Linked DNA regions of Homo sapiens: region 2 is linked to region 1. The links come from fine-mapping of genetic effects on gene expression. A gene starts in region 1. The other region holds a variant in brackets. All regions are shown on one strand. Distances are from middle to middle.

Region 1 (15,683 bases):
CGGGGTTTTACCATGTTAGCCAGGATGGTCTCGATCTCCTGACCTCCTGATCCACCCACCTCAGCCTCCCAAAGTACTGGGATTACAGGCGTGAGCCACCGCGCCCGGCCTGTTTTTTAAATTTTTTATTTTACTTTAAGTTCTGGGATATGTGTGTAGAATGTGCAGGTCTGTTACATAGGTATACATGTGCCACGGTTGTTTGCTGCACCCATCAATCCGTCATCTAGGTTTTAAGCCCTGTGTTCATTATGTATTTGTCCTAATGCTCGCCCTCTTGTTGTCCCCCAGCCCCCGTAAAAATGTTTTATCTTTTGACCAGAGTGATGGTTACAAAGGTATCTGCCTCATAATAACTCATCAAGCTGTACATTTTAATATGGTTTTTCTGGTATCTGTTTCCTATTTATTAGAATTTTCTAAAATTCAAAAATTGGAAAAATGTAAATTAGGTCATAGTTTCTAGTTACATTAGAAAATAATCCAAATTCCTGGCCAGGCACGATGGCTCATACCTGTAATCTCAGTACTTTGGGAGGCCAAGGCAGGAGGATCACTTGAGCCCAGGAGTTCAAGACCAGCCTGAGCCACATAGTGAGACACTGTCTCTACTGAAGATTAAAAAAATTAGCCAGGTGTGGTGGTGTGTGCCTGTAGTCCCAGCTACTCAGGAGGCTGAGGCAGGAAAATGGCTTGAGCCCAGGAGTTCGAGGCTGCAGTGAGCTATGATTGCACCACTGTATGCCAGCCTAGGTGACAAAAGAAGACTGTCTCACTCAAAAACAAAACAAAACAAACAAATTCAAATTCCTGCTAGCACTCTAGCTTTTTTCTTCTTACTCCTCCCATTAATTCTGCCTGAGCCTACTTACTGCTCCTGAAGCACACAAAACTCATTCCCACCCAAAGCATCCACATCTGCTATTCCCTCTGCTTGGCATGTCTTACATAATTACAAGGCCTGAACCCTCATTTTTCCTGTCTCTGTTCAACTATTACTGTCTAAGAATATATGAATAAATCCAAATGTAAAAGAGGAGGTGAAAGAAGTGAAATTCAATACACAGATGGAATAATGCACTGGGAAAGTGACTTAAGTCCGTAATAAAATGAGAGGGAAACAAGAGGTGAGTGAGTATTAAAATAAGTAAAGATGAAGTTCCTTTTGTGAGGCTGGTGAGATATTTATTTCTTACCCAAGTCTCAGCCTTTTTCCACCCAGGCCCTAGGGCTTTGAAGGGAAACCTCCAAACATTGCAGAGATGCACTTCCTCCCTGACAGCTGGGCTGTTTCCAGCAACAATGGCCTCCCTACCTGCCATGCTCTTACTCACCTGTGCACCATCTTCTTCCATCTTTCCTCACTGTCACTTCAGGCTCTTTCCATTGTTCCAATAAGGCGATCACATGTGGTTTAGAACGGGAATGTCCTGCTTATGAGATAAGAATGTAGAAAAGAAATAAAATATGAGTTCAAAAATACTTCCAGCTTTGGTTAAATTTGCCATAAATGAAAGGTCAAACGATATTGACCTTTATATCTCAGACACGAGAAGGGCAAGGGGATTCATAATTCCAGACAGGTAGAGAACGGTTTTATTTATGTAGAGACAGAGTCTCACTCTGTCGCCAGGCTGCAGTGCAGTGTGCGATCTCAGCTCACTGCAACCTCCGCTTCCCGGGTTCAAGCAATTCTCCCACCTCAGCCTCCCGAGTAGCTGGGACTATAGGCATGTGCCACCACGCCCAGCTAATTTTTGTATTTTTAGTAGAGACGGATGTCACCATGTTGGCCAGGATGGTCTCGATATCTTGACCTCGTGATCCGCCCACCTTGGCCTCCCAAAGTGCTGGGATTACAGGCATGAACCACCACACCCAGCCGAAAGGTTTTATTTTAAATGAAATCTATCTATCTATCTAACTATTATAAATATAGATAAGTGTATACTCATTTATTCTTTGTGTCTTGATAAAAAACCAGGCCCGGTGGCTCATGCTTGTAATCCCAGCACTTTTGGAGGCCAGGTGGGCAGATTACTTGAGGTCAGGAGTTCGAGACCAGCCTGGTCAACATGGTGAAACCCTGTTTCTATCAAAAATACAAAAATTAGCTGGGTGTGGTGGTGTACGCTTATAATCCCAGCTACTAGGGAGGCTGAGGCAGGAGAATCACTTGAACCTGGGAGGTGGAGGTTGCGCTGAGCTGAGATCATTACACTGCACTCCAGCCTGGGCAACAGAGTGAGACTATGTCTCAAAAAAAAAAAAAAAAAGAAAGTATGACATTGTGATTGAGAACGCGGATTGTGGAACCTAAGTGCCTGGGTTCAAGTTTCTGCTACCGTCACCTATGGGCTGTGTGATCTTGCGTAACTCACTTAAACACACTGTGCTTTATTTAGCATTCTCACCTAAAATGGTTAGCACCTATAGAGTGCTTGTAAGGTTAAAAATCAGTTAATACAAATGTATATTAATATAAAGAGCAGAGAACAGTGAAACAGCACACAGTAAGCACGCTGTGTGTTAATAACATTATTATTGTTATTTTGCTAAGACAAAAACAAAGTCTGCTTAGACATCTATATCTATAGGATATAGATTTAATTTGCATTTACTCTTAAATGCAAAGTTCAGAGATGATGAATTTTAACCACAAAATCAGATTATTTTATATGAAATAAAATGAGGTAACTTCAGTTTTAAATGATTTGTTTATCCAATCCGCCGGCATATAAGTTGTATAGGTCTTCAGATAGAACAAATCAAGACCCTTTGTCTAGCTGTTCTGCCTGCAAGGTGGGTCAGATTTTCACAGAGCATTTAGAGCAATTTAGAGCAAAAACATAATAGAAAACCTGGCCTCTTTTGTCAATGTTTTGCAATAGACAATCCAGAATTCTAATCCTGCCACTGGATCATTTCCAACCTAACAAAGCTCAAATCATTTCTCTGGCAACAAGAAGAAATCGTGTTCAGTTCTTAAGCTAGCCCTAAAATCTGCAAAGGAGAAAGTATAACAGGGAGCAGATTCTCAATTATTTGAGAGAAGTACACTTACCCATTGACACCAAGTTCCTGTAGTTCTCCAACATCACATCTCTGTACAAGCCCCTCTGGGAAGAGTCCAGACTCTCCCACTCCTGCTGGGAGAAGGCTATGGCCACATCCTCAAATGTCACTGATCCGTGATACTGCAAACCCACATATTTCTGGTAAAATCAAAGAAAATGCTTTCAAGGTGAAAGGAGAGGGAATAAAACGTTTCAGTGTAGTAAGGGAGCAATAACATAACAATCACATAGGCTGGAAGCTTATGATGTGGCAAGTGGATGAGCATGGTATCTGCATGTTCTGGAAGAATCCTGCTGCTATGGACAAAATGTCCTATATATTGTAGGATTATCATAATACTCCAGATTTGTGGTGAAATGGATAAAAGAATCCTAGTTTCCCTGTTAAGTAAAAGAGTACATACAAAGATATGGCCTGCTAGGTATCCAATGAAACAAATTCTCAAAAACAATTAGTCTCTATATTACTTTCCCTTTAAGAAGAAAATAGCTATGATTCCTTTCTCCAACTGTAGAATAAAATCTGTCTTAGAAAATAGCCATGACACAAATTTGTTGAATAACTCCTCAAGCTTCAAGTTCATTATGTCAGATCATAAGTGTTTTTCCTTATATTAATAAATACTTTTTTCCAAAGTGACATAAAAGTTATCTTGTGGATCTGTATTAAAGGTTAGTAACTTTGCGAGGCTGAGGTGGGTGGATCACACGAGGTCAGGAGTTCGAGACCAGCCTGGCCTATGCGGTGAAACTCATCTCTACTAAAAATACAAAAATTAGCTGGGCGTTGTGGCATGTGCCTGTAATCCCAGCTACTTGGGAAGCTGAGGCAGCAGAATCACTTGAATCCAGGAGGTGGAGGTTGCAGTGAGTCAAAATTGTGCCACTGTACTCTAGCCTGGGTGACAGAGCGAGACTCAGTCTCAAAAAAAAAAAAAAAAGAAAAAAAGAAAAAAAAAAGTAATGATTTTATACTTATAAACGAAGACTGTAACAAATGCCTCAGTTTTCCCCAGTTCTGGTAATCTGTTCATCTACTACTGATAACAATATGCTGATAGTGTCATACAAGATCCTTCACTTAATACTTTGGCTGCTGTTTTTTTAAATTTTTTTTTGAGACACAGTCTCACTGTGTTGCCCAGTCTGTAGTGCAGTGCTATGACCATAGCTCACTGCAATCTTGAACTCCTGGGCTCCAAGTGTCCTTCTGTCTGAGGGTCCCAAGTAGTTAGGACTACAGGCATGTGCCCCCATGCCTGGCTAATTAAAAAAAATTTTTTTTGGTAGAGACAGGGTCTTGCCATGCTGCCCAGGCTGGTCTTGAACTCCTGGGCTCAAGTGATCCTCCCACCTGGGGCTCCCAAGGTCCTGGGTTTACAGGTGTGAGCCACTGCACCTGGCCATTTGGCTGTTCTTGAGTTAGTGGATTAGGGTGAAAATGACTCAGAACCAAATGCATGTTGTCCAAGTCTGGCAGGTCCCATTCCATAACAAAATTGACCTTAGTATCACTCTCAGGCATCCCAAGAAGAACCATGATATCAATGTTTCACATCATAATCACATCCCCACTCAATCTTAAAAGCCTCATAGAGCATGTTATCTCATCATATTGAGACCAATCAATACAAAATTCCATCTTATCAGCTCTGTGGAAAACTTCAAATCTTCTGATGTGTGGCCAGATGAAGCCAACAGATCAAACTCATCAAACCACAGATGGATGTAGGAAGCTCAAATACTTCTGCCACGGGACTTCAATCCTCCACTGCTCTATCACAGCCTTTCAGCTAAGACTTACTATTTACCTGCTTCGTAACTTGCTCAATGAATTCATGAACACCGATTAGAAATGAGGACCTCGTAAGGAGGAAACGATACTTTGACATCATTCCGCCAAACAGAAGGAATCAAGTAGGCAATTAGATGGTACATTCTGATGAAGAATGCTTCAGGTCAATTAAGGAAAATAGCCACGTAATATAAAAATCCCCATATTTCAAGAAGAAACACCAACTTACATGGGCCATGCTTTGAGAATTGTAAGAACTGATCAGTCTTCACTGGGGTTCCTCTATCTGAGAAGTTCAAAAGCTAGAAAATCCAGAGAGGAGAAAAGGAGGCTTTAGTGTTCTCAATGACATACATTAATAAACCTTCCTGTCCCTTCATTTCAGCTTCCAAACTGTGCTACAAACACCCTCAAACAAAATTTGGAGAACAGTGGAATTCAAGCCCCAGTTAACTAAGCTGTACAGAGTTGATCGCAGAGGTGTGGCACTTCTTAAGGAAGGCAGAATCAGACACAAGCTTTCCCACCAGGCCCCCATTTTGGGAATGTTGATCTAGGTCTCAAATTGGGTTGCACAGTCTTCTCTTGAACAGATTCTCCTCACTCCATTCCCACGTTCTAAGCCTAAGAAAGAGTCCATATCACCCAATCCAGAGCTTCTTTAATGGTGACAGTATAAATCTGAGGTTGGTCAAGACACGGGAGGTAGAGAACATAGGAGAAAATGATCAGGCAGTTACTAATATGGCTCAGTTTTCTCATCACTAAAATAGTAATAGGAGTATCAGCTCCAACATGTGGTTGTCCTGAAGAATAAGAAAACCCACCCCAAAAGTTAATAGAATACTTGCTTAACATGAGTTGGCTCTTTTGTTTTGTTTTGTTTTGTTTTATTTTTTGAGACGGAGTCTCGCCCTGTCACCCAGGCTGGAGTGAGTGCAGTGGCGCCATCTTGGCTCACGGCAACCTACGCCACCCAGATTCAAGTGATTCTCCTGCCTCTGCCTCCCTCCCGAGTAGCTAGGACTACAGGCGCATAGTCACGCCCAGCTAAGTTTTGTATTTTTAGTAGAGACGGAATTTCACCATGTTGGCCAGGATGGTCTCCATCTCCTGACTTCGTGATCCGCCCGCCTCAGCCTCCCAAAGTGCTGGGATTACAGGCGTGAGCCACCGCGCGCAGCCGAGTTAGCTCTTACTATGGTAGCTCCCTCTTATCCACAGGGGGGAGATACACTCTAAGATCCTCAGTAGATGTCTGACGGAACCCCATATATACTATGTTTTTTCTTATACATACACACCTATGATTAAGTTTAATTTATAAATTAGGCACCATAAGAGATTTTTATTTTTCTGTTTGTTTGTTTGTTTGAGACAGGGTCTCACTCTGTTGCCCAGGCTGGAGTGCAGTGGTGTGATCTTGGCTCACTGCAACCTCCACCTCCTGGGAGCCTCCCAAGTAGCTGGGATTACAGGTGCCCACCACCACGCCTGGCTAATTTTTGTATTTTTACTAGAGACAGGGTTTCACCATGTTGGCCAGGCTGGTCTCGAACTCCTGACCTCAATTGATCCACCCATCTCAGTATCCCAAAGTGCTGGGATTACAGGCGTGAGCCACCGCACCCGGCCACCATAATTGAGTAATAGCAATAACTAATAATAAAATAGAACAACTATAATAGCATACTGTAATAAAAGTTATGTGAACATGGCCCCTCTCTCTCAAAATATCTTATTGTACCAAAATCACCTATTTTCAGATCATGGTTGACTGAGGGTAACAAAGTGAAGAAAGTGAAACTGCCGATTAAGGGGGCACTACTGCATTGGAGTTATTACGTAAACATTATACATCCTTTATTTCATTTTAATTAAACACTTGTTTCCACTTAATTTAATTTATGTATCTATCTATCTATCTATCTATATATATATATATATATATATATATATATATATTTTTTTTTTTTTAGAGAAGGGATCTCGCTCTGTCGCCCAGGCTGGATTGCGGTGGTGCCATCTCCACTCACTGCAACCTCCGCCGCCTCCCAGCTTCAAGCACTTCTCCCACCTCCGCCTCTCAAGTAGCTGTGACTACAAGCGCACGCCACCATGCCTGGCTAATTTTTATATTTTTAGTAGAGACGGGGTTTCACCATGTTGCCATGTTGGTGGTCTCGAACTCCTGAGCTCAGGCAATCCACCCGCCTCAGCTTCCCAAAGTGCTGGGATTACAGGCATGAGCCATGGCACCCGACCTGTTTCCACTTTTTACTTAAAACGTAAGTTTCTCTGGCATGCTTTCTTTTAATTCTAACTAAAAAATTAAGAGCAACTCTTCTTTAAAAACAAACAAATAAAAAACCAACAGAAAAGATTCTCTGACATTTCAATTTCCTCTGTCCCCTAGCAGCTAGAGAGAGAGAGCTACTGCTGTGGGATAATGCAAAATTGAAGAACCTTAAGAAAAAGCTGGGTCCTATTTCTGTGCAATATGGAGATTGATGGAAATGTTTACAGCTGTCATCTTGCTCTCCTTTCTTACATAATTTTGTCATTAGTTAAGTAATCTGCACAACAGATCCTTTGAAGTCCTTTTCCCTGCACTGATAATTTTCAGATGACATTGCTCTCATCTTTAAAAGGTGTAAATACTTTATACAGTTTTTTCCAAACAAGAAGAGGCTTCCTGGCAATCCCATTTCTTCCCGCTGCATGCAAAAGGTATCATAACTATCGTTTCCTTTTTAAACTGAGAGTTGAAGAGTCTTTTGCTCCTTTACATAAATCAATTACAGTGATTTTATCCAAAATAGTAACAAATATTAATAGCTCAGGTTCGCATGGAGGCCATGCACCCAGTCTTCGCGGATGCACACCGGCCCCGGCCGACGCACCCTCCCTGCCCTGCCGCTCCCGCACTCGCCGGCCCGGGATCCTCGCCCGGTCCACCCAACGCTCACGCATGTCTCAGTCCGGGTTCCGCGCCGACACAGGTCTGCAGAGCTCCCGGTGCTGTGTTCGTTTGCAGAAATTCAAGTTGCCCGGCGGGGCTGCTCCAACCTCGGAGCTGGGCGCTGACTTCTCCCTCGATGAACTCCAAAGCTCGCTGCCGGGTCAACGACCACAATGAACTGGCGAGGAGGCAGAGATTGAGGTCGTTCCAGTGGCCGCTGAGAAATGTAGTTTCAGGCTACATTGGCCGGATAGCTGCAGCCTCTGGGAAATGCAGTCCTGAGCCGTCACACCGCCGAGCATGCCCGGCGCAGTCCACAAGGCCGCCCACCGGCGCCCGGAGACTTCTGGGCGCTCCCGTCCGGCTGAGAATGCGCAGGCGCAGGCGCTCGAGTTGCTGGGAGCCATAGACCTCGAAGCTGGGGCGTCTGACACCTGAGGCCCGAAGTAGGTGGCCAGCTTCTTAGAGGGCCAACCCAGGGCATTAACACACCAGGTCAGAAAAAGCAAAAACAAAAACAAACAAAAAATGATAATCTATACCAAAATATGTTATTACTTTAACACAAAAATATGAAAACTAGGTGTTTGAAATTATCTTTCCGTACTGTTTGCTTTTCGCTACAGAAATGCTATTATTTAACAGAATATTAATAGGATTAATAGTGGCAATTAGACTAATCACGTGTGAGAAAAATATATTTCTGTCCTCTGATACAGGAATTTTAAGTTTCTATTAAATATTTAAATTTTGTGGGTTCTATCTAAGATGCTAAATGTAAGACCTTTTAAAAGGAGAATGTAAATAAGGCTAATCAAACAGATATTAACTATATGTAATAGGCATTTATCTTTCTGTCCCATCATACGTTTAGGAGATATTTACTCTTTCTGGTTCCTTTTCCAGTAACACCTCTCTGTATTAGCTGCCTGTAGCCTTTATGGCATTCTTCTTTTGGTTTATGTAATGCTAAAACTGAATACAGGCAAACGTGAAATTCACCTTGACTGTCAGCTCCGCTTTTTGTTTGTTTTGTTTTTGTTTTGTTTTGAGACAGGGTCTCCCTCTGTCGCTCAGACTGGAATGCAGTGGCGCTATCTCGGCTTACTGTAACCTCTGCCTCCCAGGTTCAAGTGATTCTCCCACCTCGGCCTCCAGAGTAGCTGAGACTACAGGGGCGCGCCACTACACCTGGCTAATTTTTGTATATTTTTTGTAGAAATGGGGTTTTGCCATCTTGCCCAGGCTAGTCTCGAACTCCTGGGCTCAAGCGATCCACCCGCCTCAGCCTCCCAAAGTGCTGGGATGACAGGGTGAGCCACCGCGGCCAGCCGAGCTCTGTTCTTATTAAGCCCACATTACAGTGATTCCTGGAGTCAGTCCAGGGTGATGACATTGATAAGGAGGTGGGGAAGGGGAGTGCTGGGGAGGGAAGGGCGGGGTCCCTTTAAATGATATGGAAGGGGGAAAGGGAGGTGCTGGGTACAGGAGGGTGTGGTCCCTGGCTAGGGCTCCACCCCTGGCCCTGTGCCAACTGACCTAGGTGAGGGCAGGCATTTTTGTTTTCCTGCCCAAATGTTGCGTTTCCCAAGACCACCCTGGCCTGCCACGCCCCCATCCTGTTCCCGCCCCCATCCTGTCCCTATAAATACTCTGAGACCCTAGCAAGCAGACACACAAGCCGCTGGACATCCAGAGGAACATGTTGGCGGAAGAAGACATGACAGACGCTGGCACGCGGGCAGGCCACCCACCAGAAGGACGCGGAGTTTGGCTGGGGCAGTCCAAGGAGAGCCGGTGCTGCGGAGCAGCCCGATTCCAGGGGAAAACCATTTCCCTTCTGGCTCCCCCAACTGTTGAGAGCTACTTCCACTCAAAACCCTGCAGTCATCCTCCAAGCCCATGTGTGATCTGATTCTTCTGGTACACCAAGACAGGAACCCCGGGATATGAAAGCCCTCTGTCCTTGCGATAACGCAGGGATCTAATTGAATTGACTAACATAAGCCGCCTGCGGACAGCTAAAGAGCATCCTGTAACACGCCCACTGGGGCTTCAGCTATAAACATTCACCCCTAGACACTGCCATGGGGTCAGAGCCCCACAGCCCGCCCGTCTGTATACTCCCCTGGAGGTTTGAGCAGCGGGACACTGAAGAAGCGAGCCACACCCCCATCGCACGCCCTGCCAGGGGGACAAGGGAACTTTTCTCTTATCAACATCAACCTAAGTAGCCTCGCATCAAAAGCATTTGACTGTCAATAGTTAGGATTTTCCCTACCAGCAGTAGCAAGTTTTTAGCCTTATTGGAATTAGTTTCCAGCTCTGCAAAAATGTTCATCTGCTTTGTAACTCCAGGCTTTTTTGGTAGAGCAGCTGTTTGTTGACCAGTCGCTTTGCCTCTGTAAGTTCACCATATAGGCTATTCATGTCTAAAGTGTTCATTTTCAAACCCTCTGAAACTCATTGGGTATCTATTACAATGTCTGAAGACAAATATTTCATTAACAAATAAGAAGGTGATAGACCTGGAGTGAGAATCCACCCAATTCATGTCAATCGGAGACAAATTTGCAATATCCTGTGATTCCTGAACTGGCTGTGGTCACTGATCACTTCTGTCCTGGAGGAACTAGAGACATTCAAGACAAATAAGGACTCATCTAGTCCCCTGATTAAAGGACTTTTCATAGAGGCTGCATTAAGGGCCAAATTATGTACAATGTGCTCTCTGAGATGGGGATGTGTAAATAGCCGTCAAAATGTCATCTGGGCAGAAATTTGTTTGGGAGGATAAATTTATGTTCAGGGGTGAGGGGTGAATACAATAGAAATTTGTATTTTGCAGAGGGAAATGTGGGTTCCATGGTGGGTAGAAATAAAATAGATTAGTAGAATACTTAGAATGTCAAAGAAATTTTTAAATCATAGGGTTTTTTTTTTGAGAAAATTTTTGAAATGATTTTGAAATGATTTATTCAAAAAGTGCCCCTCAAAAGTGATCACTCCATAGATGACAGCTAAGGATCGCAATCTTACTGCTATGCCCTTGTGTTTTGAGTGAAGACTTGTGTGACTATAGTGAGGGTCTAGGTGTTTAATCGTCAGAGGTAAATTGGAGATTTCAGATGAGGCTGTCTCATGGAAGAGGGAGGAAGGATACTCACAAACCCTACAGCTGGAATCTGAGCATCCAGTGGAAAATGACAGTCCCTGATCCCTCAGGAAACTTTCTCTGGCCACTGTCAGTGATGTTCTAATCTAGGAGAGCAGAACTTTCCCCCTTATAATGTTTCTCACTGCATTTCCTGAAATATATTTCGTCTAAGTTCCATACGTTTATCTGAAAAGAATAACCACTTACCAAATTGTGTTTCCAACTAGGATAGTGGCCGCAGTTGTATTATCTTGTGCATTTGTCAAGAGAGGTCATCCGAACGCTGAGATAAAGGCTTGGGATTCCATTGTCTCATCTCTTTCTGGGAGTGATTTTCCTCTCATCTGGAAGTGCAGAGACAGAGTCTTCATAGGGAACTGAGATTACCTCCAAAAAACATTTGTGAAGTGAGCAATTCCTAGAAGGCTGTTAATGTTGATTAATGAAATTATACAAAAAGAATCATAAGATAGCTGGAGAAGAAAATTATCTGTGATGCCTGGAAAAGATACGTCCCAGTGGGAGGTAAGTACAGAATCCTGAGTTCTGAGATGTGAGGAATTCAGTTGAGGTAATGGTTCTACTATAATTGTGGCTACCATTAAATTTTTGTTTCTTCAAATTATGATTTATTTCTCTTCCTGATAACATTGAACAATCATAAATGTGGAGGGAAAGGAATCATTGAGGGTTGATTTAGAGAGAGTAAACAGGTGTAAAGCCATGGTTCCTGTGTGTTTTAACAAATACTAACTGAGCACCCGCCCTGTTGCAGATGCATTTCTAGATGTGTGAACAAAGAAATTTATCTACCTTAATTTGAATTGAGAGAAGCAGACAATAAATAATAAAGGAAATGTTATAAGTTACATAGTGACTTATAAGGTGTTATAAGTTATGTAACCTATGTTACATATATGTAACTTATGCTATAAGTTATGTTATAAGTTATGTTATATACAATATAACATAACAAGTTATGTTATATATGTTATGTTATAACTTATGTTGACAGTCCTCAGAAGGTCTCCCTCTCCCTCTCCCGTCTCCCTCTCCCTCTCTTTCCACGGTCTCCCTCTGATGCCGAGCCGAAGCTGGACTGTACTGCTGCCATCTCGGCTCACTGCAACCTCCCTGCCTGATTCTCCTGCCTCAGCCTGCCGAGTGCCTGCGATTGCAGGTGCGTGCCGCCATGCCTGACTGGTTTTCGTATTTTTTTGGTGGAGACGGGGTTTCGCTGTGTTGGCTGGGCTGGTCTCCAGCTCCTAACCGCGAGTGATCCGCCAGCCTCGGCCTCCCGAGGTGCCGGGATTGCAGACGGAGTCTCGTTCACTCAGTGCTCAATGGTGCCCAGGCTGGAGTGCAGTGGCGTGATCTCGGCTCGCTACAACCTCCACCTCCCAGCCACCTGCCTTGGCCTCCCAAAGTGCCGAGATTGCAGCCTCTGCCCGGCCGCCACCCCGTCTGGGAAGTGAGGAGCGTCTCTGCCTGGCCGCCCATCGTCTGGGATGTGAGGAGCCCCTCTGCCCGGCCGCCCATCATCTGGGATGTGAGGAGCCCCTCTGCCCGGCTGCCCAGTCTGGAAAGTGAGGAGCGTCTCTGCCCGGCCGCCATCCCATCTAGGAAGTGAGGAGCGCCTCTTCCCGGCCGCCATCCCATCTAGGAAGTGAGGAGTGTCTCTGCCCGGCTGCCCATCGTCTGAGATGTGGGGAGCGCCTCTGCCCTGCCGCCCCGTCCGGGATGTGAGGAGCGTCTCTGCCCGGCCGCCCCGTCTGAGAAGTGAGGAGACCCTCTGCCTGGCAACCGCCCCGTCTGAAAAGTGAGGAGCCCCTCCGCCCGGCAGCCGCCCCGTCTGAGAAGTGAGGAGCCCCTCCGCCCGGCAGCCACCCCGTCTGGGAAGTGAGGAGCGTCTCCGCCTGGCAGCCACCCCGTCCGGGAGGGAGGTGGGGGGGGTCAGTCCCCCGCCCGGCCAGCCGCCCCGTCCGGGAGGGAGGTGGGGGGGTCAGCCCCCTGCCCGGCCAGCCGCCCCATCCGGGAGGTGAGGGGCGCCTCTGCCCGGCCGCCCCTACTGGGAAGTAAGGAGCTCCTCTGCCCGGCCACCACCCCGTCTGGGAGGTGTACCCAACAGCTCACTGAGAACGGGCCATGATGACAATGGCGGTTTTGTGGAATAGAGAGAGGGGAAAGGTGGGGAAAAGATTGAGAAATCGGATGGTTGCCGTGTCTGTGTAGAAAGACGTAGATATGGGAGACTTTTCATTTTGTTCTGTACTAAGAGAAATTCTTCTGCCTTGGGATCCTGTTGATCTGTGACCTTACCCCCAACCCTGTGCTCTCTGAAACATGTGCTGTGTCCACTCAGGGTTGAATGGATTAAGGGCAGTGCAAGATGTGCTTTGTTAAACAGATGCTTGAAGGCAGCATGCTTGTTAAGAGTCATCACCACTCCCTAATCTCAAGTACCCAGGGACACAAACACTGCGGAAGGCCGCAGGGTCCTCTGCCTAGGAAAACCAGAGACCTTTGTTCACTTGTTTGTCTGCTGACCTTCCCTCCACTATTGTCCTGTGACCCTGCCAAATCCCCCTCTATGAGAAACAAGCAAGAATGATCAATTAAAAAAAAAAAAAAAAAAAAACTTATGTTATAAGTTACGTAGTGACTTATAAGGTGAAAAGTGCAATAGGAAAGGAAACAGGAGGAGCAGAACCCAGTGATGAGAAGCCTGTGGAGTAGGAGGGACTCCAGTAGGGAATGGAGGGGGTAGGGTTGCTCTCATAGGGAAATGATACTTAAGCAAATATTTAAAGGAGGCGAGGGAATAAGTGATTTGTATCGGGGGAAATTCAGCCCGATATTTCACGTAGGTTCTTTTCTATTTTCCCTAAGTGTTGGCCGGTCTGAGAAATAAAGGGAAAGAGTACAAAAGGAGAAATTTTAAAGCTGGGTGTGGGTGTTTCTCATCGGGTGGGACAAGAGACTGAGAAAAGAAAGAGACACAGAGACAAAGTATAGAGAAAGAAAAGTGGGCCCAGGGGACCGGCGCTCAGCATAGGGAGGACCCGTGCCGGCACCAGTCTCTGAGTTCCCTCAGTATTTATTGATCATTATCTCTACCATCTTGGAGAGGGGAATGTGGCAGGACAATAAGGTAATAGTGGGGAAAGGGTGAGCAGGAAAACATGTGAACAAATGTCTCTGTGTCCTAAACAAGGTTAGAAAAGGTGCTGTGCTTTGATGTGCACATACATAAACATATCTGGTGCATTAAAGAGCAGTATTGCCGCCAGCATGTCTCACCTCCAGCCTTAAGGCGGTTTTCTCCTATCTCAGTAGATGGAACATACAATCGGGTTTTACACTGACACATTCCATTGCCCAGGGACGAGCAGGAGACAGGTGCCTTCCTCTTATCTTAACTGCAAAGAGGCCTTCCTCTTTTACTAATCCTCCTCAGCACAGACCCTTTACGGGTGTTGGGCTGGGGGATGGTCAGGTCTTTCCCTTCCCACGAGGCCATATCTCAGACTATCACATGGGGAGAAACTTTGGACAATACCTGGCTTTCCTAGGCAGAGGTCCCTGTGGCCTTTCGCAGTGTATTGTGTCCCTGGGTACTTGAGATTAGAGAGTGGTGATGACTTTTAACAAGCATACTGCCTTCAGGCACTTGTTTAACAAAGCACATCCTGCATAGCCCTAAATCCATTAAACCTTGAGTCAACATAGCACATGTCTCTGCAAGCACAGGGTTGGGGGTAGGGTTACAGATTAACAGCATCTCAAGGCAGAACGGTTTTTCTTAGTACAGAACAAAATGGAGTCTCTTATGTCTACTTCTTTCTACATAGACACAGTAACAGTCTGATCTCTCTTTCTTTTCCCCACAATTTGGAGACACAGGAAGATGTTCCATGAAGAAGTGGTCAGAACAATGCCCTTTTGGCAGGAGGATGCCCACATTCATTGACTAGTTAATGTGACAGCATAAAAGCTAGGGTTCCCTCCCAACTTGGGACCACATTGAAGGTCTTTTACAGATACAGAGCTTCCTGTGGGATTGGCTGAGGCCTTTGTTGTGAATGCATAACATGTCTACTCCCTCTGCCCAATCCTGTTTACTTCCTCCACCTTCCCCAGGTACTGAGGCCAAGAGCCATTCCAAATAATTGCCCTGTGTGATAACCTCCATCTCAATGTCTGCTTGCCTGCAAACCCAACCTGTGATAGAGTTAAATTAATTTGATGTTATCAAATATTCGGTTGAATTGTTAAAGCAAGCAATCTATATATGCTAGTAAAGAAAGTATCAGTATAGGAAGAGGCTATCAGAAATAGACATAGCAGAACATCTTTTGTACTGCAGATTCAGAGGAAGCTATGTTTTGAAGCATTGATCTAACAGCCTGGGTGACAGAGTGAGACCCTATCTCAAGAAAAAATAATTATAATAAAAGGGTCAGTTTAGACTAGGAGAATTCTGAGATCTCCTGAGCTTTTTCAGATGGTGGACTGAGGGCTGCAATTGGAGTCAGGTGGCCCATCTAACTGCATATTTCCATATGCAACTTCTATTTGGTGGAAATCAGAAGAGTTTAAAAAGCTAGTAGGGGAATACAAGGACACAGGGGGTTTATCCATGAAAACATTTTAGATCTGGAGAGCCACTTTCTAAAACCACTAGCCTGGCAT
Region 2 (15,683 bases), 230 kb before region 1:
TAGATCCCTGCCACCACCATGCGAACAAGCCCAGGCTAGCTTAGTGAAGGATAAGATGATGTGGCAAAGAGCCAAGGCACCCCAGAAACAAAGTTTCCTGCTGACCCACAACTGAACTCAGATGCAAGAGTAAATCCAGTTGAGACCAGAAGAATCACCCAGCTGAGCCCAGCCTATGTTTCCAAACTGTGGTATTGAGAGCTCAATAAATGGTCATTATTTTAAACCACTGAATTCTGTGGTGGTTTGTATGTATATGCAGCTAATAGATACCTCATTTAAAACAAAATTGCCCAGGGACCTTTGAGAACCCAGCCCTCCGTCATAAGTCCCCCTCCTGGTCTTGGTGTCCTTCCCACCCAACCCCAGTTCTCACTGGTGAGGATGATGATGCCTGTGATGAACAGCACAGCTGCGACCAACAGCCCCCGTTTCCGGAGGGTGTGTTCATCTGCAGAGAGAAAAATGAAGGGGTAGAGTCAGACGGACCTCACCTTTCCTTCCCCCACATCTTCCTGTGGATAACTTACCATAGAAGAAGGGGTCATCCTCATGAAAACCTGGAGAGGCAGACAAAGAGCAAGTCAGGGTTCAGCAAAGGTTTGTGAAGTGAATACGTGAATGGCAAAGTCAGGAAAGGGGGATACCTGGGTACCCTTAGAACAAAACCCAAAATCTTCACCATGGCACACAATCTGGCTCCCATTATTCCTCTAATCTCATTTCCTTCCTATCCCCCTCACTCCCTGCACTCCAGCCCTACTGGCCTCCCTGCTGTTGAACATGCAGACACCTTCTCACCTCAGGGCCTTTGCACTGGCTGTTTCCTCTGCCTGGAACACACTTTCCCTAGACATCCGCATGGCTCCCTCCTTCACTCCCTTCCCAGTGGGGCCCTCCCTGGTTTTGTATATGAAATACAGGTTGACTATCCCTAATCCCCAAATCCAAAATCCAAAATGTCCCCAAATCTGACACTTTTTGATGTCATGTCAGGGGTGTTTGAACCAGAGCAACTCCATCTCGAATAGGGTAAAATAAGGCTGAGACCTACTGGGCTGTATTCCCCAGAGGTTAGACATTGTTAGTCACAGGATGAGATAGGAGGTCGGCACGAGATACAGGTCATAAAGGCCTTGCTGATAAAACAGGTTGCAGTAAAGAAGCCAGTTAAAACCCACCAAAACCAAGATGGCAATGACAGTGACCTCTGGTCATCCTCACAGCTCATTATACATTAGTTATAATACATTAGCATGCTAAAAGGCACTCCTACCAGCACCATGACAGTTTCAAATGCCATGGCAACATCAGGAAGTTACCCTATACAGTATAAAAAGGGGAGGAATCCTCAGTTCTGGGAATTGCCCACCCCTTTCCCAGAAAACTCATGAATAATCCACCCCTTGTTTAGCATATAACGAAGAAACAACCATAAAAACAGGCAACCAGCAGCCTGTGGGGCTGCTCTGCCTATAGAGTAGCCATTCTTTATTCCTTTACTTTCTAAATAAACTCTATGGACTCTCTGAATTCTTTTTTTGTGCAAGATCCAACAGCCCTTTCTTGGGGTCTGGATCGGAACCCCTTTCCAGTAACAGTCTGACATGACACCGAAAGGAAATGCCCACTGGAACATTTTGGACTTCAGATTTTTGGGTCAGGAAAGTTGAACTGGTAAGTATAATGCAAATATTCTAAAATCTGAAATCTGAAAGTCTCCTGGTCCAAAGCATTTTGGATAAGGAATACTCAACCTGTACTCCCCAGTCACTCTCTAACCCTACTTTACTTTTCTTGATAGCAAGTTGAAATCAACTGATACATAATTATGATTATTTCTTGTTGTGTTTCTCTTACCACTAGAATAGTAGTTCCATGAGGGCAGAGATTTTTTCTGGCTTGTTCACCACTCTATCTCTGTCCCCTAGAACTAGCCTAGCACACAAGTACTCAGTGACTATTTGTTGAATGAATGGATGAATGGGCTCTCTATGTGACCCATGGGCGTATCATTTCCATTCATTCACTGGGGGGCTGACTGGGCAGGAAGTGGTGGATAAGATCACCAGGGAAAGAATCAAATTGCCCCTAGAAACAGAGGTCCTTGCTGACCCACAACTGACCTCAGACGCATGAGTAAGTCCAGCTGAAACCAGAAGAACCAGCCAGCTGAGCACACCCTAGATTTCCAAATTGCAGAAATGAGAGCTAAATAAATGGTTATCCTTTTAAGCCACTGAGTTTTTAGGTGGTTTGTATGCAGCAATAATTTATGCATTCACTTATCTATTCAGACATTTATCATGTGCCCACCCTCTGCCTGGCTTGAAGTCATTTACTTTCCCATCACGTCTTTACTGAGAACTATTCTGTGCTGGGCTGTACTCCAGGTGCTGGAAATACACAGTGAACAGAAAATAGCCTGTTTCCAGTCTGGGGAGGCAGTTACTAACCAGATGGCTTGAGGGTCTGGGGGTCTGTCTGGACGTCTGTGCTTGGGGATGGTCTCTCAGAGAGCGTCGTGGTGTCATCAGTGGGATGAGCTGAGAGAGTGGCCAGATCAGTGGAGGGCAGGAGTGAGCCATGGAGGCAGAAACAAGGGATATTACTGAGAGTCTGCATCTGGAAGAAACCCCTCTCCCACATCTACACAGCTGGTGTGCAGGGTCAGGCATCCCCCCTACTCCACACCTAGAGGCAATAAGTAATGACAGGCATTGAAATGCTGAAATAAGCACATAGCCCCGGTTGCGACTATCTGATCTGCCTCAATCCCCGAGGGACTCCAGACCCCTCTCCTAGGACCTTCTGGCCCACACTATAATCCAGGAGATAAAGGAACGAAAGGGCAACACCTGCCAAGGACTCTGACCCAGCTACATAGTCTGGAGAAACTTGTAAAACATTCTGAATATTGGCTGGGTGCAGTGGCTCATGTCTGTAAACCCCAGCACTTTGGGAGACTGAGGCGGGCAGATCACCTGAAGCCAAGAGCTCAAGACCAGTCTGGCCAACATGGTGAAACCCCGCCTCTACTAAAAATACAAAAATTAACTGGGCCTGGTGGCACACACCTGTAATCCCAGATACTTGGGAGGCTGAGGCAGGAGAATTGCCTGAACTCGGGAGGTGGAGATTGCAGTGAGCCAAGATTTCGCCACTGCACTCCAGTCTGGGCAACAGAGCAACACTCTGTCTCAAAAACAACAACAACAACAAAACTATTCTGAATATCACCTCTGCCCCCAGACCGAAAATACCAAAGGATTCTTCTCTTGAAAAAAAAAAAAAAATCAGTACCTCCAAAGAAAAGGCCTCCCCCAAGCACTGAGAAGTGCCCCCACACCACATCGGAGGCCTCAACAAGAAGCCAGCAGACAGAGAAGCTCCCTCGTGAAACCCAAGTTCCCTGGAATTATCTCAGTGCCCCACACCCTAAATAGGAACTGGCAACCAAGGATTACAAGATATTCAGGGAATGCATTGCCCAGAGGAAGGTATAAGCCAGATCCACGGCAGAGACCACAGGAATGCGAAGGACAGCCATACTGGTGTGTGGTGCTCATGCACCCTGGGGTGAGACAGTCTGGACTCAAATTCCGGTTCTGCCACTCTTGGCTGTATTGCCTAGGGCAAGCTGAGTAACCTCTCTGGGCCTCAGTTCCTTTTCCTGTAAAATGGGAGTAATGACAGTTCCCACCACACAGGATGATCACAAGCATCAAATGACTGAATACACAGAAGCTTAGCACAGTGCCCAGCATGAACAAGCTCTCAGCAAAAGTCAGCCATTGCTATTACTGTCTGCTCAGCACTCTTCCTCCTTCTGGAACAGCTCTCCCTTTCTTTGTGGGAAGACATTGCCCTCCCTTCCCCAGTTATAACCCAGGCTACAAAAGGAAGCTTGTGACCTCAGTCTGGTCCTTCCCTGAGACCTTTGAAATCCCAAGTAGGGATATTGAGTGACAGCTAGGTACTATAGACTGAATTCTATCCACCCCACCAAATTCCATGTGATGGTATTTTGGAGCGAGGGCCTTTGGGAGGTAATTAGGGTTAGATAGGATCATGAGGGTGGGGCCCTCATGATGGGATTAGTGCCCTTATAAGAAGACACCAGAGAGCTTGCTTTCAAGCTCACAAGCCCACCCACACATGGAGAGGACATGGTGAAGACAGAGCAAGAGAATGGCTGTCTGTGACCCAAGGGGAGCCCTCGACAGACACCAACCCTTCTGGCACCTTGATCTTGGACTTCCCATCTCCAGAACCGGGAGAAATGAATTCCTATTGTTTAAGCCATCCAGTCTGTGGTATTTTGTTATCGTAACCTGAGCAGATTAAAACCCTAGGTGAAGTCTGGAAGTTTTGAGCTAGGAGGCTCAAATAACATGAGCCATTTCCTTCCTAGGTGGAAGAGAAGCAAAGATAGAGGAGGAAGAGAGGCCCTGGGGGCTTTCATGCCCAGCCTCTAGGCAACCCAGAGGCTCAGCAGTGACAGCCATTTGTCCTTGATGAATTTCTGTCACATATATCCAGGAACATGGACCAATACATAGAGCAACTCAGGTCAGCAAAGACTCAGTAAATTAATGCAGTGATGTGAGAATGCTTTATCATTGATAAGTGTGGACACAGCTGCTATCCCCCACCCCTACAGGTGCACTTTTGTACAAACTAGAAAAGTTCCCTTCTGTAAAGCACTTTATTTCCATCCATTGTAGGATTGTTTTAATAGATAGATTCTGTAAGAATGAGATGCTTTGCTGCTATCACTAGAAAACTGGAACAATTATAAAGACCGACAAAGGGAATGGCATTGCCCGAGAGGTGGTGCTCTCGTTCAGTACCCAGTCTGCACAACTGTACATGTCTCTCTGGGAGTGGCCTACTCTACAACACTTTCCAGTGTGGGGCTGCCCCTCAAATAAGGATCATCACGCAGGCATTAGAGGCGATCTGTTGCCTTATCTCAGCTCAGTCTCCTTTCCCACACCTTCTGGTAATACTAACTCACTTGTCCAAAGGAAAATCCCCTCTTCCCTGACTCTTGGTCTATGTGGTTCAGGCATGGCTGGCTGAGCCTCTTCTCTAGCCCCAGGGTGGGGCACAAGACTCAGGCCTGACCAATGAGAGCAGCTCATTTCTCAGGCTCTCATTGGTTCAGACATGAGCATGTGACTCCAGCTGAACCAATGAGAGTCAATTCTAGGCCTCAGGCTAGAAATAATGGGAAAGATTTTGTTCTCTAGCCACCACGTATGTGACCTAAAGTTAGAACTATGGGACCATCTCTGCCATCAAGAGGGGAGAAGTTAGTAGAGAATGAAGACAACAGAACCAAGAGAGGGAACAAAGCACTCATGACAGTGCTTACTCGCCTTGATCCAGCTATGCCTGAAGTTGGCTACTTCTGGACTTTCCAGAACTTATATAGCCAATCATTCTTTTGTGTGTGTGTGTGTGTGTGTGTGTGTTTAAGGTGAATTTTCTATATTTTGCAACTGAAAAGCTCCTGCTCTAACATTAAGGAGATGTACAAAAAAGAAATATCCACAGGCACATTCTATAGCCCCAGCCCTCCGAGGGGAACTGACAGAAAGAAAGTTCCAAAGTCTATCAGTTAGGGAAACACTGCATACTGCACGCTGCCCCTTGGGGATCCTTTGCTGAAAATTAGCTTAATGAAGACTCTCAGAAGTCCTGCCACAAAGAAACATGGTTAACTTTAACTCAGGGTTCCCCAAATAACTTTGACCACAAACCAAAAACATTTTTTTTAAATGTATTAACAATTCCCCAAACAGGGGCACTGAGAAACGTACTGAGGGAAATGTTGACCTAGATAGAGAATTAAACAAAAATCGTAGGCTGCTGCTCTCAGTCCCATGCTATACCTGCTTTGGTGCTCTTGTGTGTCTCTGGATCTGTCACTAGAGGCCCATCCGTTCCTTCCAGTTGCTGGGTCTGGGTCTGGGGTTGTGGTGTTTCTATTCAGGTCAGGAGAGCAAGGAGGGAAGGATAAGAAAGAGTCACTGGGGAAAGAGAATTGGGGCCGGGCGCGGTGGCTTATGTCTGTATTCCCAGCACTTTGGGAGGCCGAGGCGGGCAGATTACCTTAGGTCGGGAGTTCGAGACCAGCCTGACCAACATGGAGAAACCCTGTCTCTACTAAAAATACAAAATTAGCTGGGCGTGGTCGCTCATGCCTCTAATCTCAGCTACTCGGGAGGCTGAGGGAGAATTGCTTGAACCTGGGAGGCAGAGGTTGTGGTGAGCCGAGATTGCACCATTGCACAGCGACCTGGGCAACAAGAGCAAAACTCCATCTCAGAAAAAACCTAAGAGGCTGGCAAAACCTGAAAATGTCAGTATACCAAGTGTCACTGTAGGGTTGGGAAGGGGGACACTCCTGCACACTGCTGGTGGGTTAGGAAATGGGTACAGTCACTTGGGAGGGGAACTTTTATTTTTACTTTTATTTATTTTTGAGACAGGGTCTCACTCTATCACCTGAGCTGGAGTGCAGTGGTGCAATCATAGCTCACTGTAGCCTTGAACTCTTGGGCTCAAGTGATTCTCCCGCCTTAGCCTCCCAGGTAGCTGGGACTACAGGCACATGCCACCATGCCCAGCTAATCATTTTGTACTTTTTGTAGAGAATAGGTTTTGCTGTGTTGTCCAGGCTGGTCTCAAATTCCTGGGCTCAAGCGATCCACCCGCCTCAGCCTCCAAAAGTGCTGGGATGACAGGCATGAGCCACTGTGCCTGGGCGGCAGGAGGGCAAATTTTAAAACATTAAGCATGCATGTCCTTTGCCCTGTATTGTCTTGGATAAAAGCACAGGCTCTGGTGCCAGATTCCTGGACTTCGATTCCAGCTGCGTCCCTGACTTGTTGTGAGACCTTGAACCAGTTACTCACAGCCTCTGTTTCCTTGTCTGTAAAATGGGGACAATGGTAATTTCTGCCTCTTAGGGTTTGCGTGAAGGTTGAATGAGTTAACATACGCAAAATATTTAGAACCATGACCAGCACATAGTCAGTACATATTCCAAGTGCGTTTGCTCAAGGAGGAAGGGACAAAGTTGCTCATTGTGGTGCTGTGTGTAGACAGAAAAAGCTGGAAACAGCCAACATGTTCATCAAGAAGTGTGTGACTCCATAAGCTGTGATATAGGCGCCTTGTGGAATACCAGGCAGGAGAGAAAACAAAACAAGTCTTTATGCAGTGATGTGAGAAGAACTTCCAAACATACGACTGCACGAAGAAACAAAGCAAGCTGCAGAACAATCATAAGGTCTCCTTAAGCTCACACAAACACAGCACACAGTCAGTGCATTTTCTCCAAGTAATATACATGGGATGTGGTATCACTGGGGACCTACCCCAATGCTGACAGTGGGGACCTCTCAGAGACAGAGGGAGAGAACGAGGATTGGGGAGGGGAGGTGACAAAGGGGTTTAGTTTTGCCTACAATCATTTTATTCTTTCCAGGCAGAATGTGTTTTTGTACTACTGTGTCTTTAAACATCGATTGAAAAAATCAGGGAGCACTTTTTTTTTTTTTTGAGACAGGGTTTCGCTCTGTTGCCCAGGCTGGAGTGCAGTGGCAAGATCTTGGCTCACTGCAACCTCTGCCTCTGGGCTTAAGTGATTCTCCTGCCTCAGCCTTTCGAGTAGCTGGGACTACAGGAGCACGCCAACGCACTCGGCTAATTTTTGTATTTTTCTGTAGAGATGGAGTCTCACTGTGTTGCCCAGGCTGGTCTAGAACTCCTGAGCTCAAGTGATCCATCCACCTTGGCCTCTCAAAGTGCTGGGATTATAGGCATGAGCCACTGTGCCTGGCCGGGAGCACTTTTTGAATTATACTTCAAGAAAACGTCCAAAAATTGTTCAAAAAATTCAAAAAAGGGATCAGAGAAAAAAGAGATGAAAGGAAGAAATAAATGGGACTGGCACACAGAGACTTTCTGGGGGTGTTTGCAAAGTTCTGCTCCTTGACCCGGTTGGTAGTTACATAGGGATTCAATTTAGAGTAAGTTATTACACTGTAAATTTATGGGTTTTGTATTTTTCTATATGCATGTTAATTTCACAATTTCAAAAGCGTTTTGGTTTTCTTTTTCTAAAGAATTGAATGGAGTTGGCTGTCCCCACCCAGAGTAAACCAGGGCATTCAGAGCTGGGAGTAGGGACTGAAATGGGCAACCAAAGACCTATAGTGTCAGAGGAAGAGGGGAAACTTTGTTTGTCTTGGTC[C/T]TGTCCCCGCCGCCTGCCCCTGCACTACTCACCATCAGCAGGCCAGGTTGGGGTTGGAGAGGTGGGCTGGAGTTCTGTGTAGACTGCATCTGGAGTCCAGAAACAAGGAGTCACGGAGAGAAAAGGAGAGAGAAAAAGAAGTGGGCAAGGTCTATGGGTGGAGATGCCAGAGATTCCCGTAGCAACTCAACTTTAATGTAATAGAAATGGCTTAATTAATCCAGCCATTTGCTAACTGCCGAAATGTGTAACCAATATGTCCCCTTCTTTGGGACCTTACGTCCCACAGATGCCACACTACAGCTCCTTCTTCGAGATGCTGGCTGCAAATTGTCTTTCTCAAGACTCTGAGAAGTGCTGCCTAAAAAAACATGTTTAACTCAGCTTCCCAAATGCACCTGCTCTGATAAAAGCCCCCAGAACTTCCTTTAGGGACCATCCTTCCCTGACTCTTGGTCCACTTTATTCAGCGGGGCTGACACCAGCCCTGGTGGAGGTTGGACATGGAACCCAGGCCTGGCCAATCAGCTTTCTATGCCTGTGGCCACAGTGGCCAGCTCAGGGATACGACCTGAGCCTGGCCAAAGATAACTCAGTTCTGGGACATTTGCTGGACTGGGGAAAGGAAATTCTCTTGCTGGGATTCTTAGCAGACAGGATGACAGCCCCAGGCTTCAAGGGATCATCTTGGCCCCATGAGAGGAGACTCTTCCTGAAAATGAAGCCAACACAGAGAAAACAGAACCAAGAGGTGGAGAGAGGTTCTGATAGCATCATTTGAGCACCTAGATCAAGCCATGCCTGAAGGTCTGTACCTGGACTTTTTCGTTACATAAATCCATAAATTCCCTTGTTTGGTCCAAGTTTGGGATTTTTGTTGCTGTTGTTATTTGCAATGACAGGATCTTGATAGATGTGTCCCTTTCCTCACCTGGGGCTCGTGTCGGGACCTGAATGTCCATGATAGTTGAGTCTGCTGAAGAACTGGACGTGGTATCTTTCAACGTCTGTCCTGGGGAATCAAGGATGAGAAGTCAGGAGGGAGCCTGGTCCCCCTCCTCTCACCACCCCCGCCCTCGCCTCCCTGGTGAAACCTTAGGGGTCCTGTCTGCTGGTGGAATCACTCAGCTTTGGCTGCATCAATCCATAATTCTGAAAGTGTTTTCAGCTATGCCAATGCCTGGGAACCCTTCTTCTAGTCCCCCTCCCCGCCCATCCCTGTGGGATGGGAAAGTCAGTTTAGTCTAGTGAGCCCAGGTGCTAGGGTGAGCCTGGGCCCTGGTTTCAAATCCTGCCCCCAACAACTTTCTTGCTGTGTGACCTGGAACAAGTGAAGTCCTTTCTCTGAGCCTCAGTTGCTTCATCTGCAAAGCAGGGATAATAACTGAATCTACTTCACAGGGCTGTAGATAGGGTGAAATGACACAGAGCAGGGAAAGGGTCTCCCACACGGCTTACCATGTGGTCAGTGCTGGATAACTCCACTGCCCCCATCCTGGTCCTGCCTCTGTACCCTCCAGCCTGGACATCCCAGCAGCCTCCTTCTTGGGCTCCCTGCTCCTGTCTCCGCCCCCACAGTCTGTTCCAACCTGCAGCCAGAGGGAGCCTGGGACCACCTGAGTCAGGTCGGGGCCCGCCTGGTTCAGAGCCCTGCCCTGGCTGCACTTCACTCCACATAAAAGCAAAGCCCTCACGTGGCCCGTAAGTCCTCCTCCATCTGGTCCCATCACTTCTCTGTCCTCTCGTCATCCCACTCTGCCCCTTCTCATCCCAACCCAGCCACCCCACCTGCCTGCTATTCTTAAAACACACCAGACAACACTCAGCCCCCAGACACCTGCAAAGCTCATTCCCTCATTTCCTCCAAGTGTTTGTTGGTCCAAATGTCACCTCCTCAGTGAGGCCCTCCCTGACCACCCAGTTTAAACAATCCTCATTACCTCTACTTTTCTGCAAGCACGTATCACCTCCTAGCACACGATATAATTTACTAACTTGTCTCTCTCCACTAGAGTGTGACCTCTTGTTTTATTCAGTGCTGTTTCCCCAGTGCACAGAATATCTAGCACATAGTAGGTGCTCAATAAATATTTGTCAAATGACTGAACGAGTATATGAAAATCATTTTATGAAGGAGAAATGAGGGCGCCTTCAGTGGGGCATGCACCCTGGGTTCTGGGGGCAGGCAGGACAGTTGTTTTCTCAGCTCCTCCACCCATTCTCCTCTGACACAGGGCACTTCCCTTCGCTGAGCCTCAGTTTCCTCATCAGTAAAATGGGCAAGACAACAGGTGTGACTGACTGTCAGAGGCAAAGCCTAACTGACCTAACACACACCACACCTGCCACACAGAAAGAACGATCAATACCCCCCTGTGGTTCCCATCTTTCAGGAGACACTTTCCAGGCAAGGCTGAGATGTTGCCAACTCTTTGGACTAACCCCAGCTCAACAGCTTTGCCTAACTGTGTAATGCCTGGGGACTCTGGGAGCCTAGGTTTCCTGGCTGCTGAGTAGAAAACCGACACCAATCTCCCCGCCAAATGAAACTCAGTGAGTTCTTCTTGGAGGTGAAATTGGAGGATGCTCAGCAGGACAGGCCCTGGCCAGACTCACTGGAAGCAGCCACCCGGGTCTGAGGTGTCCAAAGAGGGTGTAACGTCGCCCCGCCATAGGGATCCCCACTTCCTGGTGCCGGCTCAGCGGGAGGGTGACAGGGCAGGACAACGTTCACACGGGCCAACCACCCACCCCGCAGCACACGTGGGGCTGGCCTGGCTGGGGGCTCTGGGGCAGGGTGGAGGCCAGAGATGGGTCTTACCTCTGGTGGGGAGAATCAGGCCAACGATGGTGAGAAGACACAGGCGACCAGAGGGCGACATCTGTGGGACCAGGCGATGCTGGGGTCAGCCATGATGTCAGTGAGACCGACCTCCGGCAGCCCCCGGGGATCCTGCAGCCCTTTCCCTGCCCTGAGCAAAAACCTCTGGCTTCCAAGACCCCCTGCCAGGGGCTGACGGCTGGCCTCAGGGGAAAGGGGAGGGTCTTAGGTGGGGATACCAAACCGTCACCCTGCTTCCTTCCCCTGCAGGTCCCCAAAGAAAACAAGAAGCATGAGATAAATGGGTCTTCCAGCAGCTGCAAGGGCCGGCGGGCACTCCTGAAGCAGAGAAACACCTCCCTGCGCCTTCCGCCAGGCGCTTATCCCTCACTGGGACTGACGCAAGGAGGGGACTGGGGCAGAGGAGTAGATAGGAGGCCTCTTCCCTCCCCCAGGGGCCCAGAGCCCGGGAGTCGGCGAGGAGGGGAAGGAGGAAGAGTGAGTAACGCCTCCCGCGCTCAGAGGAAAAAGTGAGTTGGTGTCAGGGGCCGCCTTGCAGGGATGGCGCGCTGGAGAGACCTAAGAGGCACTGGTCCGAGGGGGGTGGCAGAGAGCTGGGGAGACTGAGGCAGGCGGGCGGGAGCGAGGCAGAGCGGCCCACTGTAGCCCAGGAGAGGAGGCAGAGAGATGTGGGCGTGGATGGGGGGCGGAGAGGAGCGGAAGGGGTCAAACCCCTACCCACCTGAGCCCGGCCCGTGGGCAGAGGGGCAGCGGATGGAGGTGGCGCACGAGAGGGACTTACGTCGGAGCTGGGGGTCCTAAGCCGGCAGCCTCGTGGAGAGAGGGACGCGGCGGTGGCTGCTGCGTCCAGGCGGAGGGTGTGGCCAGGGGAGCGCGAGCGGGCGGGGACCCAGACGGGCTCAGTCATTTCCTCTTGGGTTTCCTGGCTTCAGAGCCCGGGGTGGGAGCAGGAGGGGGAATCGCTGAGGGCGACGGGGGGCAGGGGTGAGGGCATAGTGGTGGGAGAGGGTGGGAACGGGGATGGGGCAGGCAGGTCTAGGGTGAGTGGACGCCTCTGAGAGAGCAGGGGGAGAAACGGGAGGGCTCTATTCTGGGGTCGCTGGAGGAAGGGAAAGGACAAATCCGGAGGTGTTGAGGAAGGAGAAGGGATTGAAGGGGGGCATCTCGGGGCACTGGGGGAGGAGAATGAAGAGGGGGCGACTCCGGGCACGCAGGGGAGAGCTACCCCAGGTTCAGTTCTGCACCCCTACCCACACCGTGCCCCACAGATGAGAACACACAGACAGAACAGAGGAAAAAACCAAATGCACATTTATTAAGCTCAAGACATGGACACTGAGGGGCCAGGGGGACGGATCTTCGGGGATGAGACAAGGAGGTGCAGGGGGGCCATACACGGGGATGCTGGGGGTGCTGGGCCGGGATGGACTCCCGGATCCCAGGAGCTGGAGGCCTGAGGCCCTGGGTCTGGGGTGCAGACGGGCTCTTTGGGGGATCGTCATTGCCAAGGCCTGGAGAGGGACAGCAGGGTGCAGCGGCTCCAGCCTTGGGGTGGGTGGGGCGGCTCATTCCGGGGAGCGCTCCCGGCGCGCGGCTGGGTCCCCACCGCCTCCACCCGGTCCTCAGGCTCCCGCGCTCAGGCAGGGTCGGCAGCGGAGTTTCCTCGGGAAGGTGTTACACGCCGCCGCCACCAGGGGCTGGGGAGAGAGGGGGTGCGTGAGCCACTAGAAAGGTGGAAACTGCCTCCCTCCCCACAGCTCGTTGGCTCTCCATTCCCCGGCACCATGGAAGCCAGACCCCAGGGACTGTCACCCCAGAGCTAACACTGAGGAGCTGTCTTGCCTCCCACACTCTAATGTCTTGTTCCCTTGGGGACACCTCCTGGCTGCTGTCATGGAGAGAAACACCTGCTACGGGGCTGGCGACCCCAGACCCAACCTGGGCTTTTGGGGCTATCCGCCTGCCAGAAAGGGAGTCCCCATCTCCCTTCCCATTTGCAATCTCCTCCTACACCCTCACTCCTTTCCTACACTCCCTGTCCTGAACATTTGGATACAACGGGAAGTCCCCCATTCCCCACCCGCTGCAGACCATCATTCACCTAGGATAGACCAGAAACCTGTGCAAAGTCTTCAGCTGTGCCCCAGGTGACAAGGCCAACCCCCATGCTGCCCCACGCATCCATAAGTGCCTTGTTCATGTTTTAAAACTCATTAAATAAACATGAAACAGGCCAAGCGCTGTGGCTCACGCCTGTAATCCAAGCACTTTGGGAGGCCGAGGATGGCGGATCGTTTGAGGTCAGGAGTTTGAGACCAGCCTGGCCAAAATGGTGAACCACCATCTCTGCTAAAGATATAAAAATTAGCCGGGTGTGGTGGTGTGTGCCTGTAGTCCCAGCTATTTGGGAGGCTGAGGCAGGAGAATCGCTTGAACCCAGGACGCAGAGGTTGCAGTGTTGTAATAAGCTGAGATCGTGCCACTGCACTCCAGCCTGGGCAACAGAGGACACAGCAAGACTCTGTCTCAAAAAAAAAAAAAAAAAAAAAAAAAAAAAGGAACGTGAAACAAATTCCACACCAAATACTTCTCAACCATTGAATAACCCGTGTCCCCCTCCCGCATTTTTTTTTTTTTTTTTTTTTTTTTTAGTTATAAGAACTTTATAAGAGACACAGAAATTCCCATTTCTGTTCTTTTACAAGTCTCCAGAAAGGCTGCATTTCCACTAAAAACAGGTCAAGTTATTTTTACATAATTAAAATTAACAGCCTCAAAGAGATCAGTCTTTCGTTGACATGCTTGCCCTGCATCCCTCTCGCTCTCCCTTTACACTTTCCATGCTTACACCCATTCTCCCTCCTCCACCCTCCACGCCCTCCTCCTCCCATCCTCCTCCCCTTCCTTCCTGGGCTCCTCCTTCCCACATTCTCCCCAACACCTCCGTCCTCTCCACTCTCTCCCCTCCTGTTCTTCCCAGCTTTCTTCTCCATCCTCACATTCCCTGCATCCCATATGTTCTTTTCCAATGTGAATTCTAAAATCTGCATTCTATTCATCTCTCTTTTTGTTATTTTGATGCAACTATTCAGAAACCTTCCCTCCCTCCCTCTGTCCCGCTTCCTCGGCTATTTCATCCTGGATCTGCCTGGCTGAACGATCAAGTCTGGAAAGCCTCTCCCCGTCTTCCTCAGTGCTCCCTCTCTCTCCCTCCTGATTGACAGAGCTCCTCCCACATGGGGCCCTTCTCTTCACAGGCCTGTGTCTTCCTCTCCTGGCAAATCAGCTTGTCCTGGCTTTTATAGGCTTGAGCATTTGTTTCTGGGAATCTCTGTGGACTCTGGGACATGTCACATCCCACAGCCTCCCCACGGTTTAGCATCATCTTTCTTTTCCCTCCCTCCCTCCCTTCCTTCCTTCATTTCTTCCTTCCTCTTTTTTTTTTTTTTTTTTTTTGACAGTCTCACTCTATCACCCAGGCTGGAGTGGAGTGGCACAACCTCAGCTCATTGCAACCTCCACCTCCCAGGTTCAGGTGATTCTCTTGCCTCAGCCTCCTGAGTAGCTGGGATTACAGGTGCGCACCACCATGCCCGGCTAATTTTTGCATTTTTAGCAGAGACGGTGTTTCACCATGTTGGCCGGGCTGATCTCGATCTCCTGACCTCAGGTGATCTGCCTGCCTCAGCCTCCCAAAGTGTTGGAATTACAGGCATGAGCCACCGCGCCCAGCCAGGTTTAGCATCTTTCATCTGCGGAATTTCCTCAGCTTCCTAGGGAATTGTCCTGTGATATCTGCAGGCACCACCCCCCCTCCGCCCCCTGCGTCCAGTCCATCCCCGCGACTTCCCTTCTGAGGGTTCCCTTCCCTGCCCCACCTAAAACTCTCCCAGAACCACACAGTTTCTCACCCTCACCTGAAGAGGGAAGCTCAGACTTACAGGATTTGCAGGTTGGGCTGTGGAGGCAGAGATGAGAGAGAAAAGTAGAAAGAGGTTCAATAACCATAGGCTTTGGGGAAAACGCATGGCAGGCCCAGTGGATCCTGCCCATCTGCTAGGGAGGCACCCCGAGGCCCCCTCCCGCTCTTTGCCCACTGCTGCCAGACCTCTCAGACCTGGAGTCCGCCTTCCTGCACTTCACCTTCTTGCCTGTTGGGAGAGAGAGACAGAACAAGAAGACAGGACATAGCGGGTAGGATATGGATGAAAGCCAGCAGAGGAAGCGGAGGCTGAGGCAGCCCAGGAATGGGTCGCACTTACTGATGACGATGAGGATACCCAGCAGGAACAAGATGGTTGCCAGAGTCATGCCCACAGTCTGCACCGTGTTGTAGTCTGGGGAAGATAATGGGGGACATCGAGGCAGGGACAGCACCTTGGCTGCACCTGGAGCCCAGTCCTGGCTCTGGGTGGCCCAGCCAGGAACCCAGAATCGCCCAGGGAGGCTGTGGACTGTGCTGGACACTCCTTCAGGGGGTTGATGTGAGGATGTAGGGTGTGGGCTTGGGCACCGTTAGCTCCCCTTGCCCTCTGTACCCTCTACTTTCCTCCCTTGCCCTCTCCCCCTGCG

What was found.
Region 2: its variant is fine-mapped to the expression of ZNF30 in visceral fat (GTEx, PIP 0.98).

Annotation. Positions count from the first base shown.
Region 1 is chr19:34,919,375-34,935,057 of GRCh38, reverse strand. It overlaps ZNF30 (zinc finger protein 30), which reads right to left and starts at 8,155. Exons shown (of 5, transcript NM_194325.3): 1 at 7,842-8,155; 2 at 5,102-5,174; 3 at 3,065-3,215; 4 at 1,335-1,430. The coding sequence starts at 5,110. ZNF30-AS1 (ZNF30 antisense RNA 1) reads left to right here and starts at 8,232. Exons shown (of 3, transcript NR_110749.1): 1 at 8,232-8,329; 2 at 11,224-11,516; 3 at 12,007-12,043.
Region 2 is chr19:35,151,019-35,166,701 of GRCh38, reverse strand. FXYD7 (FXYD domain containing ion transport regulator 7) reads right to left here. Exons shown (of 6, transcript NM_022006.2): 3 at 15,374-15,448; 4 at 15,220-15,262; 5 at 15,029-15,069; 6 at 12,400-12,808. The coding sequence ends at 12,786. FXYD5 (FXYD domain containing ion transport regulator 5) reads right to left here and starts at 11,967. Exons shown (of 9, transcript NM_014164.6): 1 at 11,893-11,967; 2 at 11,091-11,151; 3 at 9,201-9,281; 4 at 8,302-8,358; 5 at 5,901-5,993; 6 at 2,457-2,546; 7 at 531-560; 8 at 377-451. The coding sequence starts at 11,151. RefSeq lists enhancers at 11,027-11,196, 12,135-12,999, 13,949-14,500 and a silencer at 15,199-15,598. The variant C/T (reference allele first, on the strand shown) is at 8,270.